Linked DNA regions of Homo sapiens. The protein of the gene in region 1 purifies or fractionates together with the protein of each later gene. This does not show direct contact. Each region holds a gene or a part of one and is shown in the gene's direction. Other genes may lie near its edges.

Region 1 (7,389 bases):
GAGCCCATGAGTTCGAGACCTGCCTGGGCAACATGGCAAGACCCCATCTCTACAAAAAATTAAAAACTAGCCAGGTATGGTGGTACACACCTGTGGCCCCAGCTACTGGGGAGGCTGAGGCAAAGAAGCTTGCTTGAGCCCAGGAGGTCAAGGCTGCACTGAGCCATTTTTATGCCACTGCACTCCACTTGGGTGACAGAGGGAGACCCTGTCTCAAAAAAAAAAAAAAGAAGAAGAAACTGCTTTGGTTTGTATATGTTTAAGTCCTAAACAAACACAAGGCATCGTTAATAGAAATATAGGCTTTGAGACTTTTGGAAGAAAATATACAGTGTTGTTATTCCTGCTTTTTTAATGTGTTTCTGTTTTAATAGTGTAGTTGATAAATTATAAAGTTCCCGTTAGATGCCATAAATAGAACAAATATGGGGCCGGGCGCGGTGGCTCACACCTCTCAGCACTTTGAGAGGCCGAGGCGGGCGGATCGCCTGAGGTCAGGAGTTCAACACCAGCCTGAGAAACACGGTGAATCCCCATCTCTACTAAAAATACAAAAAATTAGCCAAGCGTGGCGGCATGCGCCTGTAGTCCCAGCTACTTGGGAGGCTGAGGCAGGAGAATTGCTTGAATCTGGAAGGCGGAGGTTGCAGTGAGCTGAGATTGCGCCACTGCAGTCCAGGCTGGGTGACAGAGTGAGACTCCGGCTAAAAAAAAAAATAGAAGAAATATGATACACACAAATAGCACAGGTGTAATTCTGTGGATTCAAAGTTTTCTGCTTAAAAAAAAATAAACGGGGCCAGGCACTGTGGCTCACGCCTGTAATCCCAGGACTACGGGAGGCCAAGGCAGGCGCATCACCTGATGTCAGGAGAAACCCCCGCCTCTACTAAAAATACAAAATTAGCCGGGCATGATGGCAGGTGCCTGTAGTCCCAGATACTCAGGAGGCTGAGACAGGAGAATCACTTGAACCTGGGAGGCAGAGGTTGCAGTGAGCCAAGATCACGCCATTGCACTCTAGCCTGGGTGACAAGCGAAACTCCGGCTCAAAAATAAAATAAAAATGAACGAGATGTTGGGATTGTGTGAAGTGAATGTTTTCCTCTTTACTTCATTAGCTATCTCTTGAATTCTGCAGCATTAAGCATTCAAGCATTAAGCCTGTTAAATTTAGACCAGACCTAGAGTAGTCTCTTTTTCCTCCCGTCCGCCAAAATCAAAGACTACAGCTCTGCATTTCCTGCTCAATCTATTATGCTTTCCTTGTTTGAGAAATAACTATCTGCAAACACTTACTGTGAGTGAAGGGTGCTTTATCTTCAGCGTAAAACCCCAAGTCTAGGAAATGGCATGGTCTGTTTCAAGCCTTACCAGCAATACTCACTGGTTCCATTTGAGAGGTTTCAGCCCTTAAGGATTTCAGATACCTACAGCAGGAGGATGAGCTAACAGGAGGATGTGAAAGACAGGGAAATGCTACTTTCTTTTTAACTACCATTTTACAGACAGCACCAAAACACTTTTTTTTTTTTTGAGACGGAGTCTCACTCTGTCACCCAGGGTGGAGTGCAGTGGTGTGACCTCAGCCCACTGCAACCTCTGCCTGCCAGGTTGAATCCATTATTCTGCTGCAGCCTCCCGAGTAGCCGGGACTACAGGTGCACACCACCACATCTGGCTAATTTTTTGTATTTTAGTACAGAGGGGGTTTCACCATGTTGCCCAGGCTGGTCTGGAACTCCTGAGCTCAGGCAATCCACCCTCAGCCTCCCAAAGTGCTAGGATTACAGTCATGAGCCACCACACCCAGCCCCAAAACACATTTTTGAAACATGAATTATTATTATTAAGCATTTGTCAGAAAATCATTTTCCCCTCACTTAGCTTCTGGCACCACCTGCTGGCCGTTTTGTCTTTTCAAAGCAGCAACATTGCACGTTGGTCTGTTTAAGCTCAATGTTGTTTGGCCCTTAACTGTTTATTAGGTCATTGTTTTGAGACCTATGGTTTCATCTCCTTCTTAAGGAAGAGACAAGACGGAATAAGCAGGTAATCAGCCCTCCTGAATTCTTGTCTCAGTTTCTTAAATGTCATATAAATAAGAAACATGCTGGGCATGGTGGCTCATGACTGTAATCCCAGCACTTTTTGAGACCGAGGCAGGCAGATTGCTTGAGCTCAGGAGTTTGAGACCAGACTGGGCAACATGATGAAACCCCATCTCTACTTTTTTAGAAAAGAAAAAGAAAAGCTTTTAAAAGTGTCTGTCCTAGCAATCAGAAGAACTTGCTGATTCCTGTGTTCTGGAACAATGCTTGTCAAATTTTATGTGCCTCTGCATCACCTGAGGATCTTGTTAGGCTGCAGGTTCTCATTTGGTAGGTCAGAGCAGGGCCTGAAATCTTCATTCCTAACCATCCTCCACGTGGTGCTTTTGCCACTATGTGGACCACACTTTGGGTAGCAAGATTCTAGAGCTACATTGTCCCATAAAGTAGCCACCAGCACATGTGGCCCAAACTGAGATGTTCTGTAAGTATGACCATAACCTAGAATTTGAAGCCTTCATATTTAGGGGGAAAAAAGAATATCTCAATTTTAAAATATTGGCTGGGTGCAGTGGCTCACACCTGTAATCCCAGCACTTTGGAAGGCTGAGGAAGGCAGATCGCTTGAGTTTGAGTTCCAGACCAGCCACAGCAACATGGTGAAACCCCGTCTCTACAAAAAATCCAAAAATTAGCCAGGCATGCTGGTACATGCCTGTAGTTCCAACTACTCAGGAGGCTGCGGTGAGAGGATGGCTAGAGCCTGGAAGGCAGAGATTGCAGTGAGCTGAGATGGCGCCACTATACTCCAGCCTGGGTGATGGAGCCAGACTGGTCTCAAAATAATAAAACGTTGATCACGTGTGGAAATAATAGTTTTGATATATTGGGTTAAATATACATTTCATCATTTATTATTTCTAATGTAACTACTAGAAAATTTAGAATTTCACATGTGGGTAGCATTAGTTTTGTTTTTTTGTTTGTTTTTTTGAGACAGAGTTTCACTCTGTTGCCAGGCTAGAGTGCAATGGCGCAATCTCGGCTCACCGCAATCTCCACCTCCCAGGTTCAAGCGATTCTCCTGCCTCAGCCTCCCAAGTAGCTGGGACTACAGCTACGTGCAACCATGCCCAGCTAATTTTTTGTATTTTTAGTAGAGACGGGGTTTCACCGTGTTAGCCAGGATGGTCTCGATCTCCTGACCTCATGATCTGCCCGCCTTGGCCTCCCAAAGTGCTGGGATTACAGGCGTGAGCTACCGCGCCCAGCCCAGTAGCGTTAGTTTCTATTGGACACCACTGTTCTAGAACATTAACACAACAGAGGTGACATTTTTTATTTTTTTTTCCCCCAGATGACCCAGTTTCCCAATCTCCTTGTTTCCATGTCACCATCTCTGCTAGCTCAAATCAGTATTTGTTTAATTCTTTTCTTGGGACGATTTCCTTGCCCTCCCATCACACTCCTTTACACCTTCTCAGCCTTCACCATTGCCATCATGATCCCAGGGATCTCATCAAGCAATGAACAGTCCTATGTGCCAGAATACTAGCAGCATCCTTGTTTAAAGCACTTAGCCTTGCCATGGGGTGTGGGGCCTGGACCAGCAGCAACAGCCTCATCTGTGAGCTGGTTAGAAATGCAGAGCCTCGCCGGGCAAGGTGGCTCACGCCTGTAATCCCAGCACTTTGAGAGGCTGAGGCTTGTGGATCATCTGAGGTCAGGAGTTCGAGACCACCCTGACCAACACGGTGAAACCCCATCTCTATTAAAAATACAAAAAAAAAAAAAAAAAAGCTGGACGTGGTGGTGGGCACCTGTAATCCCAGCTACTTGGGATGCTGAGGCAGGAGAATTGCTAGAACCCGGGAGGCGGAGGTTGCAGTGAGCAGTCAGGGTGACGGAGACTCCGTCTAAAAAAAAAAGAAGAAGAAATGCAGAGCCTCAGGCCTCGCCCCAGACCTAGTGAACCAGCATCACAAGTCACAAGACTCCCAGGTGATTTGTATGCACATTAAAGTTTGCATGGGGAGACTGGCTGGTGAGTACTTTAACAATCTTCGTAAAGCACACTGTTTCAGTTAGTCTCCGCACCTGTTCCTTCAGTTAGTTTTAATGAAGTTTCTGCAAGGTTTATATACCATGAAAGTTGTAGCTAAGGTAAACTAGTGCTTTACCTTTCAAAAAAAAAAAACAAACAGTGAATTTTAGATAAATGGCGTCCAGAAGGCAGGTCCAGAGATTGACATCTCATGCTTTCCTGAAAATAGATTAAATATCCTTTATTTTATTGACCTTTTTTTTTTTTTTTTTTTTTTTTGAGAAAAAGTCTCACTCTGTACCCCAGGCTGGAGTGCAGTGGCGTGATCTTGGCTCACCACAACCTCCGACTCCCGAGTTGAAGCGATTCTCCTGCCTCAGCCTCAGCACACCACTGCACCCAGCTAATTTTTTGTATTTTTAGTAGAGATGGGATTTCACCATGTTGGCCAGACTGGTCTTGAACTCCTGACCTCAGGTAATCTGCCCACCTTAGCCTCCCAAAGTGCTAGGATTACAGGTGTGAGCCACCACACCCAGCCTCAAATATCCTTTAACCTTTTCAGAGACACGAAATGAAAGGCATTACCATCCTCTTTACTTCTCTCCAAAGTGAGAGCTGTTGATGACACAGCATCACCTCCTACATCTAGGCTTTTATTTGGGGTTGTTTTTTTTTTGTTTTTGTTTTTTTTTTAATAAAAGAGATGGAGTCTCACTATGTTGCCCAAGCTGATCATGAACTCCCAGCTTCATGGGCTCCTCCCACCTCAGCCTCCCAATATGCTGGGATTTCAGGTGTGAGCCATCACACCCAGCATTATTTTATTTTTTATTGTATTTTTTATTTTACTGTTTTTTGTTGTTGTTGTTTTTTGAGACAGAGTCTCGCTCCTTCAGTCTTCGCCCAGGCTGGAGCGCAATGGCGTGATCTCGGCTCACTACAACCTCTGCCTCCCGGGTTCAAGCAATTCTCCTGCCTCAGTCCTCCCAAGTAGCTGGGACTACAGGTGCCCACTACCACCCCCAGCTAATTTTTTGTATTTTTAGTAGAGACGGGGTTTCACCATGTTGGCCAGGATGGTCTCGAATTCCTGACCTCAGGTGATCCACCTACTTCAGCCTCCCAAAGTGCTGGGATTACAGGCACGAACCACCATGCCCAGCCTATTTTGTTTTTTAGAGATGAGGTCTCCCTATGTTGCACAGGCTGGAGACAGCTTCTGGGCTCAAGCAATCCTCCCACCTCAGCCTCCCAAGTAGCTGGGACTGTAGGCTATTATCTTGTTTGCTCCGGCCACAGGCCTTGTTGCAGAGTTGAACATGCCATCCCTGCAGATAGTCTGTCTTGGTTTGAGTTGAATTTGGAAGCTGGAGGAGGGGTGTGCTGACCAGATCCAGTCATGAAGAACGCCACTCAGTAGCACATAGGTTTCAAATCCTGACAGCAAGCTCTCCAGGAGGATGAGGGGCATAGAAAGTTTGAGAACCACTGCTCTATAGTATGTTATCCATCCTCAGCTATCACATGTATCCTGTTTGTGCTTGTCTTCATTTCTCTTTTATGCTACAGACTCTTTAGGCTCTCTGAAGCCCATGCCTGATACTCAATAGATGTTTTAAATATTCTTGCACAAATTAATGTTCCCTTTTGTAAATTCCTTAGACCTGTTATCTCTGAACTTAACCAAGTTGGAAGGGACTGAAGCAATGACAGGAGCTTTCACCTTAACTGCGATCAGCCATTTAGTGCAGAAGCCATCATCAAAGGAAAAGTAGAGCCTAGGGAGTCAGGGTAGAGCGCCAGCCCTACGCCGAAGCTCACGTTTGAAGAAGGGAACTGGGGCAGAGCTGTCATGACTGCTGGTTTCCTCTTACTAGCACTTCTCTGTACCATTTTTCTTTTTCTCTTTTTTCATGTCACAATGAGCTATAATTTGAGCTGCTTTTATTGTTCCCTAAAGACTTTGGATTACTCTGTATCACAAACACTGAAATCCAATTCGTATTTTTTTGGCCTTTGGGGAAGTGGAACCATGGGTGTGTTTGTCATTTTTAGCAGTCATTGGAGTAGGGCCAAAGCTCCAGGAGATACTAAAAGTGTCTAGAATTGTCTGATTGGCTGTTGGAATTAACTGTTAAACAAAGCAGCCAGTAACTGAACACCGGAGACCTTCTTGAACTCCAGCTGGGTGGGAGACCTTCCAGTGTGTCTGGCAGCTCTGAACTAGGACAGAAAGGTAGAGATTCAAACAGTGGACTGGTGACAAAGCAGCTGATAAAAGCACTCTCATCTCCATCCTTTGTCTGGGAGTCTCGCCTTGCCTTGGAATCACTTCCTCTCTTTTTCCCTGCACTGGTTTGTGCCAGCGCTGTCCTGCCTGGTCACATTTACCAGCTAGCGGATGAGAAACTCAGAAGTGCGGGGCTCATGTTCCATAATGAATTGAATCCGGGACTACAGGCTGCCTGATACACAAATGAATTTTGTTTTGTGGATTGAAAACAGGAATAAGGAAAGATAAGTTTTGGACATTGACTTAGTCTACTCAATCTTTCGTAGGTAAGGTGATTCTTAGAGAGAGTTCAGAGAAAGTGCCTGGGTTTATCATTTATCTTTTTCTAAGGTATTTGATTTTATACACATTTCATACACATTAAACAAAACCAGTTTTTAAAGCACCACTTTCCTTGGCACACTCCATTTCAAAGTATATCCCTTCACAGTCATGGAGCATCTTGCCAATACCATCTTTTAAAACAATTTTTTTTTTTTTGGCTGGGCGCAATGGCTCACGCCTGTAATCCCAGCACTTTGGGAGGCCGAGGCGGGCGGATCACGAGGTCAGGAAATCGAGAACAGCCTGGCTAACATGGCAAAACCCCGTCTCTACTAAAAATACAAAAAATTAGCCGGACGTGGTGGCAGATGCCTGTAGTCCCAGCTACTTGGGAGGCTGAGGCAGGAGAATGGCGTGAACCCGGGAGGCGGAGCTTGCAGTGAGCCAAGATCACACCACTGCGCTCCAGCCTGGGCGACAGAGCGAGACTCCGTCTCAAAAAAAAAAAAAAAAAATACAAAAATTAGCTAGGTGTGGTGGCACGTGCCTGTAGTCCCAGCTACTCGGGAGGCTGAGGCAGGAGAATCACTTGAACCCAGGAGGCGGAGGTTGCAGGGAGCCGAGATCGCGCCACTGTACTCCACCCTGGCGACAAAGCAAGACTCCGTCTCAAAATAAAAAATAAAAAAGAAATAGCAGAAGTAGAGATGAAGGATATCATATTGTCACTCTAA
Region 2 (7,389 bases), on another chromosome or scaffold:
CAGGCGTGTACAACCATACCTGGCTTTCTTCAATCTTATTTTTTAAGATGTATTTTTATTTTTAAATTTAGTATTCCCTTTTGATAGATGGGGAAAGGAAGGCTCAGAAAAAGGAAAATGAAGTGCCCAAACATATCCAGTGAAGACAGGATTTGAACCTGTCAGGCCACCCAGACTCCAGAACCCACTTTTGAGTTTTTTCTACTTTGACTAAAATGAAGTTAAAAAAAAGAAAAATCAGGCAGATTATTGGAGCAACACAAACTCCCTGGGCAATGGAATTTGGAGTCAATCTGTAGAAGGGCTCAAATGCCAGGCTTAGTAGCTAAACTGTATAGTGGGGTGGGGTCGTGGGAGCTATAGAGGGCTCATGCGCTGAGGAGCACAGGTGCCTGTGTGTGGGAGCAGTGACCAAGGAAGCTGGGCATGTGCAATGGGGCAGGACTGTGGAGTGGCCTTCATTGATGATTAGACAAGCAGCCCGTGGCTTGTTCATGGGCTGCAGAGAGCACTGAGTGTGAGTGAGCTTGGCCAGCAGGTGAATAGGGAAAGGGCCTGGGCAGGGGTGCGGCAGGGCTGGGGGTGGGGTGAGATGGGGTCAGGAGAACCCAGAGTGTCCTGACACCCCCCTGCCTCCAGGCTGAAGTGCCCTGGGAGACCCGCCAGCCTGCCTGGTGAGCGGCACCGTGCCACCCAGACAGGGTGGGAGGACCTGGCGGCTGGGCGGCAGCCAGGAGCCCTGCCTCCGCCCCTAGCAGCCGCAGAGACCTCCGCCCCGCCCCGAAATCGCATCCTAGAGTGACAGGATCTGAACCACCTCCAAAGGCCGTTTGATTTATCACCAGCCCGGCTTCCCTGCCGCCTCTTGCTATTTATAAAGAGGTTTCCATTCCTGATGACCGCCTGCCGGCCTGCCAGCCTTCAGGGCGAGCGGTTCCCCACACTTGCCGCTAGGTGGCGCCCTCTCCCCACCAAACAGCACGGTCCCCGGTCCCGCCCCGCCATGGGTGGTCTGGCCAGATTGCGGTGTTATTAGGATGGAGGGTGGGCAGGTCCCACCACCTACCCCATTATTCAGACATAGCAACCCCACTGCCTGGCATTCCGCTTTATAGCTGCTGTGTTTGATTGTTTTTGGTGGAAATGCAGATAGCTTGGGATGGAGTCCTTGTGTCTTATAATGCAGAGGGTCCAAAAAGTCCAAGCTCCCATCCCGTTTGTTCTGCCAGGAGAAGCTGGTCCTCCCTGATAGGAGTGTTGTGTTGGTGGCAGAACTGATATTGGAAACTGGGCCCCATAGCCCCTATCCTGGAGCCAGGTGTCCCCCAGGTATCACTTGGTGAACTTAACTTCCCTAGATGGGGCCCAGGCCAGCAGGAGGGGTGGTGCCAAGGGGAATCCTCAGCAGCCCCTGGCACTGACCATGAGGGCTGTGCTCTGTCCCCCAGATGATTGCCCGCCACCTCCGGCCCCCTTCCCTCACCGCATGGTGGAGCTGAGGACCGGGAATGTCAGCAGTGAATTCAGTATGAACTCCAAGGAGGCGCTCGGAGGGTGAGATCTGGGACCCCAGCTGGGCACTCATGGACAGAGAGTACACCGGGCTCCTGTGGCTTCACATTTCCCCTGTGCAAGGCCCAGACACACACCCCGCTGAGACATGGCCACATGGACATGTTCACCTCTGTGTGGGACACACACTGTGTGCAGCTGTCACATGCTGATGTGCACTCAGTGTTGCTGTCACTTACTCAGACGCACCGTCAGCCATTCAGTGCTTCCGTAGGAAATACACAGCATTTTTCTGTCTGTCTCAGCTCCAGGCACCACACTGACCCCCTCATGGTGATTCCTGCTTTGTAAAAAGCCCTGACTCAGTCTTATACCTCTGCAGATCCTCCCTCTGCCTGAAGGTGCCCTCCCCCAGGGCCCAGGGCCTGCCTGCCCTAAACCTCTAAGGGTCGCATCCCAGGGCCATCCTCCCTACACGCCTGCTCTTCCTGTGCACGTGGTCTGTGTGGTTCAAAGAACCTGCTTCAGCCATTGTCCTGGCAGAACAGCTCACAGCTTCAGGAGGGAGTCAGGGCTGGCTGGGGTGAGTGCTCCCATCTCACCAAAGGGGATCCAGAGGCACCACTGGGTCTGGGACCAAGTTAGGATCAGAGCAAAGGATGCCACTGACCCCGGTGGGCTCTGGGGTCCCCTCACTTACAGCCTCTTCTCTTTCCAGTGGCAAGTTTGGGGCAGTCTGTACCTGCATGGAGAAAGCCACAGGCCTCAAGCTGGCAGCCAAGGTCATCAAGAAACAGACTCCCAAAGACAAGGTAGTGAGGTTGCGGGGGTGGTGGCTGCCCAGGATGGGGAGGGGATCCTTGGAGTGGGCACCTCTCGCCTCCCTCCACCAGCGCTGCTGAACCTGGGGCCTGGTATGGGAGTTTGTTGCAGTGAAAATACTACACAGATAGAGAGATGGATGGACAGCCCTGCAGCAGGGGCCTGAGGACCCTACCCATAACCAGATACTTCAGTTAGTGAACTTATCTGGGGACTTCCCTTTTAGGCATGGGATATTCATGCCCTCTGGTTCAATTCAACAAACACTGATGAGTGTGGGCTCTGGGCCAGGCCCTGTGCTGGGCACTGGGGGTCTGGGAGTGAAGTGGGTGTGGTCTCCACCCTCAGGGAGCTGAAGCCAAGGTAAACAAGCCTGGCCTAGAGCTTTGCCTCTAGTACCCACGGCCTGGGCTGGGTTCAGAGGAGGCCACGAGCAGTGTTTGTTGAAGGAATGAAAGGATGCAGGCAGGTAGAGTGAGGGAGTCTGCTGTGTGAGGAGGTAATAGCAACCTCGTGTGACCACAGCTGTGACTCAGGGAAACTGCGGGGTAGCATTTTGGGGTTCAAGAGAGCTTCTGACTCAGGCCGAGGGGTCAGGGAAGCTTCCTGGACCAGCTGCCTTTTGAGCGAGGGCTTTGAGGAGACGTTCCAGTGGAGAAGGCAGGGGCAGAGTTTCAGGCAGAGGGGACTATGGGAGGAAAGGCTCGAGGGCCAGAGATAGCAGGAGGTGCTGGGGAGTGAGGTTCTGGGCATCCCAGGCAGAAGCCACAGTGTGGGCACAGGCCCGACCCCAGTGAAAGCGTGAGAAGCAGCTCTAGCCGCTGCAGCCCTGGGTCCCCATTATGGCTCTAAGCACACTGGAAGGAGTGCATTTTCTATGTGACAACGTCCTTTTTCGTCTCTTCCACTTACAGGGCCTGGGTCCGTGTTATTGTCTCCTAGGTCCCAGGCCTCTGTCACAGGCTCTGGCTCAGCATAGATGTTCAGTACCTACCTGCGGCTCAATTAACTGGGGCCAGTTTTCAGTTGATAATTATTGAGCACTTCTCTGCCATTCAGTGGGTCAGGGGCTGGGGAAATGTCAGTGACCTAAAAACACCCCTGCCCTCATGGGCTGACATGCTACAGTGGAGGGAGAGACAACTAAAACATAAAGCAAAAAGAAAAAAGAAAAGAAAAGAGAAGAAAAGAAGGCCTGGCATCAGGTACTGAGAAGTGCTAGGAGGGAAAATAAAGCCAGGTAAGGTAGAGGGGGTACAGGGCTGATGGGGGCGCTTTTAGATAGGGAGGTGAGATCAGTCCTCTCTGAGAAAGACATATGTGAGGTGAGAACTGAATGAAGGGGTGGGTAAAGGCAGAAGGGGAGCCATCCTGGCAGTGAAACAAGGGTTAGTGTTTAACCACTGGATCTGGGTAGGGCAGGTGTGGAGAGAGGCCCGATTTACAGCATTTGCCATTTCTCATGGTGTAAGTATTCCTATTATAGCCGATATATCAGCCTACCGATGTGACAGCTGGCTTGCGACTTTCTGAAAGTGACAAATAATGGTGTCTTAAACTAGGAAGGCAGTGGTGGAGGAGGTGCGAATGATTGGATGTATAATCTAGCTTGAAGGTAGATGATGCTGAAGAGTTGGGTCGGAGGTGGGGTGTGAGGGCGCGAGAGTAAGGGAAGAACTTAGGATGGCTCGTAACTTTTTGTCCTGCACCCTTGGGTGAAGCGTGGGGGTACTTTTGCTGCCAGGCAAGCCGAGAGCAACTCAATTGTGGGGAAGGGACGATGTCTAAGGTCTAATTTTGGACATGATAGATTTGAGATGTCTATTAGACAACTAAGGCAAGTAGACAGTTGGAGATATTGGAGTCTAGAATTCAATGGAGTGCTCAGAGGTTGAGATGTATATTTGGAAATTGATGACTTTGGATAAAATGTAAAGTCATGAGACTTTATGCAGATGCCCAGGGAGAGAGCAGAGAGAGGGAAGCGGTGAGGGGGGAGGATGGAGATCTTGGCATGTCAGTACTCAGGAGAAGAGCCGGCAAAAGGAAGATGTCCCAGCAGGCATGACTTGGGAGTGGTGAGGACCACAGATGTGGGGGTGGGGGAGAGAGGAGAGGCAAGGAGGAGGCTGAGCAGTGATCTGGGCAAGGCTAGCAGGCCTGTTCAAGGGTGCGGGTATGGAGGGTGGGTGGCAGGGAGTGATGGTGCCCAGCTGGTACCCTTGACTTCCCTGGTCCCCAGGAAATGGTGTTGCTGGAGATTGAGGTCATGAACCAGCTGAACCACCGCAATCTGATCCAGCTGTATGCAGCCATCGAGACTCCGCATGAGATCGTCCTGTTCATGGAGTAGTGAGTGCCCGAAGTAGTGGTAGGGGCTGGGTGGGGGTACCACCAGGCACGGAGCAAGCCGTGGAGGGGTCTGTGCACACAGCATCGAGGGCGGAGAGCTCTTCGAGAGGATTGTGGATGAGGACTACCATCTGACCGAGGTGGACACCATGGTGTTTGTCAGGCAGATCTGTGACGGGATCCTCTTCATGCACAAGATGAGGGTTTTGCACCTGGACCTCAAGGTACCAGACTGGGGCCTCCTGGGAAGGGTCAGGGGCAGCCTCCGACCCCCTGAGATCAGTGCTGTCACCAGCCATCCCTCTGCCCTCCCATCCCTCCATCTCTTCCTTCATCCATCCTTCCCTTCATAGATTCAGAAAGGGTTTATGGAATACTTACCAAGTGCCAGGAGCCGGGGGCACAGCAAAGAGAGAGAGGGGGGGAAAAAAAAAAGACGTGGTACCAGCTTTCATGGAACTTCTAGTCTAGTACTAAGTATTTGTTGAAAGGGCCTTTTGCAGTCCTGTGAGCCCCAAGCTCAGTGTGTCACACAGACAAGTGGCTAATAAGTGTTGCAATAGCACCTGCCTCAGCCTTGGCCCATGATAGGTACTAGGAGTGTCTGATCATTTATTCAAAAGCAACAAATATTTCTTGAGGGCCTACTTTATGCCAGGCAATGCTCTAGGTGGTGGAGATCCTGTGGTGAACCAAACAGATAAAAATCCCTGCATTCTTGGAGCTCTCAAATAAGTATAGTGTCAGCGTGGCAATGTGCATGAGGTAGGCGCTAACAACAATGTTTCGTGAAAGAATATTGATATCCTTCTTCTTTTTTTTGAGATAGAGTCTCACTCTGTTGCCCAGGCTGGAGTGCAGTGGCGCTATCTTGGCTCACTGCAACCTCCGCCTCCTGGGTTCAAGCGATTCTCCTGCCTCAGCCTCCCGAGTAGCTGGGATTACAGACACCTGCCACCACACCCAGCTAATTTTTGCAGTTTTAGTAGAGACAGGGTTTCACCATGTTGGCCAGGCTGATCTTGAACTCCAGACCTCAAGTGATCCGCCCACCTCGGCCTCCCAAAGTGCTGGGATTACAGACATGAGCCACTGTTCCCGGCCTGATATCCCTCTTCTGACCTTGCTCACTACCATGCACATGGTAGGTCAGGAAGAGCAGATCTGCTTTTTTTTTTTTTTTTTTTTTGAGACAGAAAGTCTTGGTCTGTTGGCCAGGCTGGAGTGCAGTGGTGTGATCTTGGCTTACTGCAACCTCTGTCTCCTGGGCTCAAGCAATTCTTTTGCCTCAGCCTCCCGAGTAGCTGGGATTACAGGCGTGTGCCACCATGCCCGGCTAATTTTTGTATTTTTAGTGGAGACGGGGTTTCGCCATGCTGGTCAGGCTGGTCTTGAACTCCTGACCTCAGGTGATCTGCCTGCCTCAGCCTCCCAAAGTGCTGGGATTACATGTGTGAGCCACCGTGCCTGGCCACAGATAGGTGTATACATTGCAGCAACTCCAGTCAGTTGTCCGTAGCTGTCCGGAGCTGAGTGTGGAGCTCTGGGTGTGGAGCAGGGAAGGGCAGCAGGAGTGCAGGGGGTTGGCAGTCCTCATGGCAGGTGTTAATGCTGTGCGTTAAGTGGCGGGACATGGAATCTTAATGTGGAGGCGCGTGAGCACCCATCAGCAAAGTGGATGGTACTTTCATTCATTCATTCCATAAGCATATGCTGGGTACTTTCCTTAATTCATTCGATAAGCACGTGCTGGGTACCTGCTCCTGGAAGGCCCCGTGCTAGGCATAGGGACTGTGAAGGAAATGGTCCCTGTCTCATGGAGCCTCCAGGGGAAACAGACATTCATAAAACAATTCCTAACTAAATAGGTCATTTTAAGCCATGAAAAGTGTTTGAGAAAATACACGAGAGTAATGCGGAATCGCACTGGGTGAAATTGAAGTCAGCACGGGTCTGAAGCAGGCAGGGAGATGCTGTTGCCGCCTCTAACACCTGTCCCAGTTTTGCTCTGTGCCCGACACTGTCTGAGTGAGGGTGCCATCTTCCCAACAGTCCCCTGGGTTAGGTGTGTTAATATCACTGCCACTGACAGAGGAGGACACAAACAGGGTGAGGAGGTGGGTTTCAGTGGGGCCAGAGTGGATGCAGGGAATTTAGAGGCTGATGGAGTAAGTAAGCCAGGAGAGAGATGCCAGGGGCTTGAGCCAGAGTGGCAGTGGGAGAGGGGAGGGAAAGGGGCCAGATGGAGGATACATTTTGGAAATAGAGCCAATCTGATGTGCTGAGGGTTTGCATGTGTGAGGGTTAGGAAAAGAAAGGATCAAGGGTGAGTCCTGAGTTACTGGACAGATGGTGGCCCCTTCACTGAGCTGGGGGCAGTTGGTGCCTGCATGATGACATTGGAAGACTGCCTTTCCCTAGTGAAGGCTAATTTCTTTGGGGCAGAATAGGGTCCCCCAATTAAAATGCAGTGCTCTGGGAAGAAGCTCAGTCGTGAGCCTCTGTATCCTAAAATGTGTTTTTTTCAGGATAATAATACGTTTTTTGTCAAAAAAAGTGTTTCACGGTCAAGTAGGTTGAGTGCACCCCAGCCCACAGGCCATGTCCTGGGTCTCTTGGCTGCAGGGCTTCTGAGGGCCTCCTGTGTGTAGATGGAGAATCTCTGAAAGGAAATTTGAGTCTGCTTCATTTCCCCAAATGCTT

Evidence for each region.
Region 2: the proteins of MTRFR (region 1) and MYLK2 purify together in Homo sapiens (affinity purification with mass spectrometry; 3 studies listed by BioGRID and IntAct, with this or other methods). This does not show direct contact.

The regions. Positions count from the first base shown.
Region 1 is NC_000012.12:123,236,378-123,243,766, forward strand, and holds part of MTRFR (mitochondrial translation release factor in rescue), read left to right. Parts: intron 1-6,250; exon of another isoform or gene 6,251-6,657; intron 6,658-7,389. UniProt on the Homo sapiens protein: Part of a mitoribosome-associated quality control pathway that prevents aberrant translation by responding to interruptions during elongation.
Region 2 is NC_000020.11:31,822,029-31,829,417, forward strand, and holds part of MYLK2 (myosin light chain kinase 2, skeletal/cardiac muscle), read left to right. Parts: intron 1-1,448; coding exon 1,449-1,554; intron 1,555-2,230; coding exon 2,231-2,324; intron 2,325-4,576; coding exon 4,577-4,686; intron 4,687-4,768; coding exon 4,769-4,910; intron 4,911-7,389. UniProt on the Homo sapiens protein: Implicated in the level of global muscle contraction and cardiac function. Phosphorylates a specific serine in the N-terminus of a myosin light chain.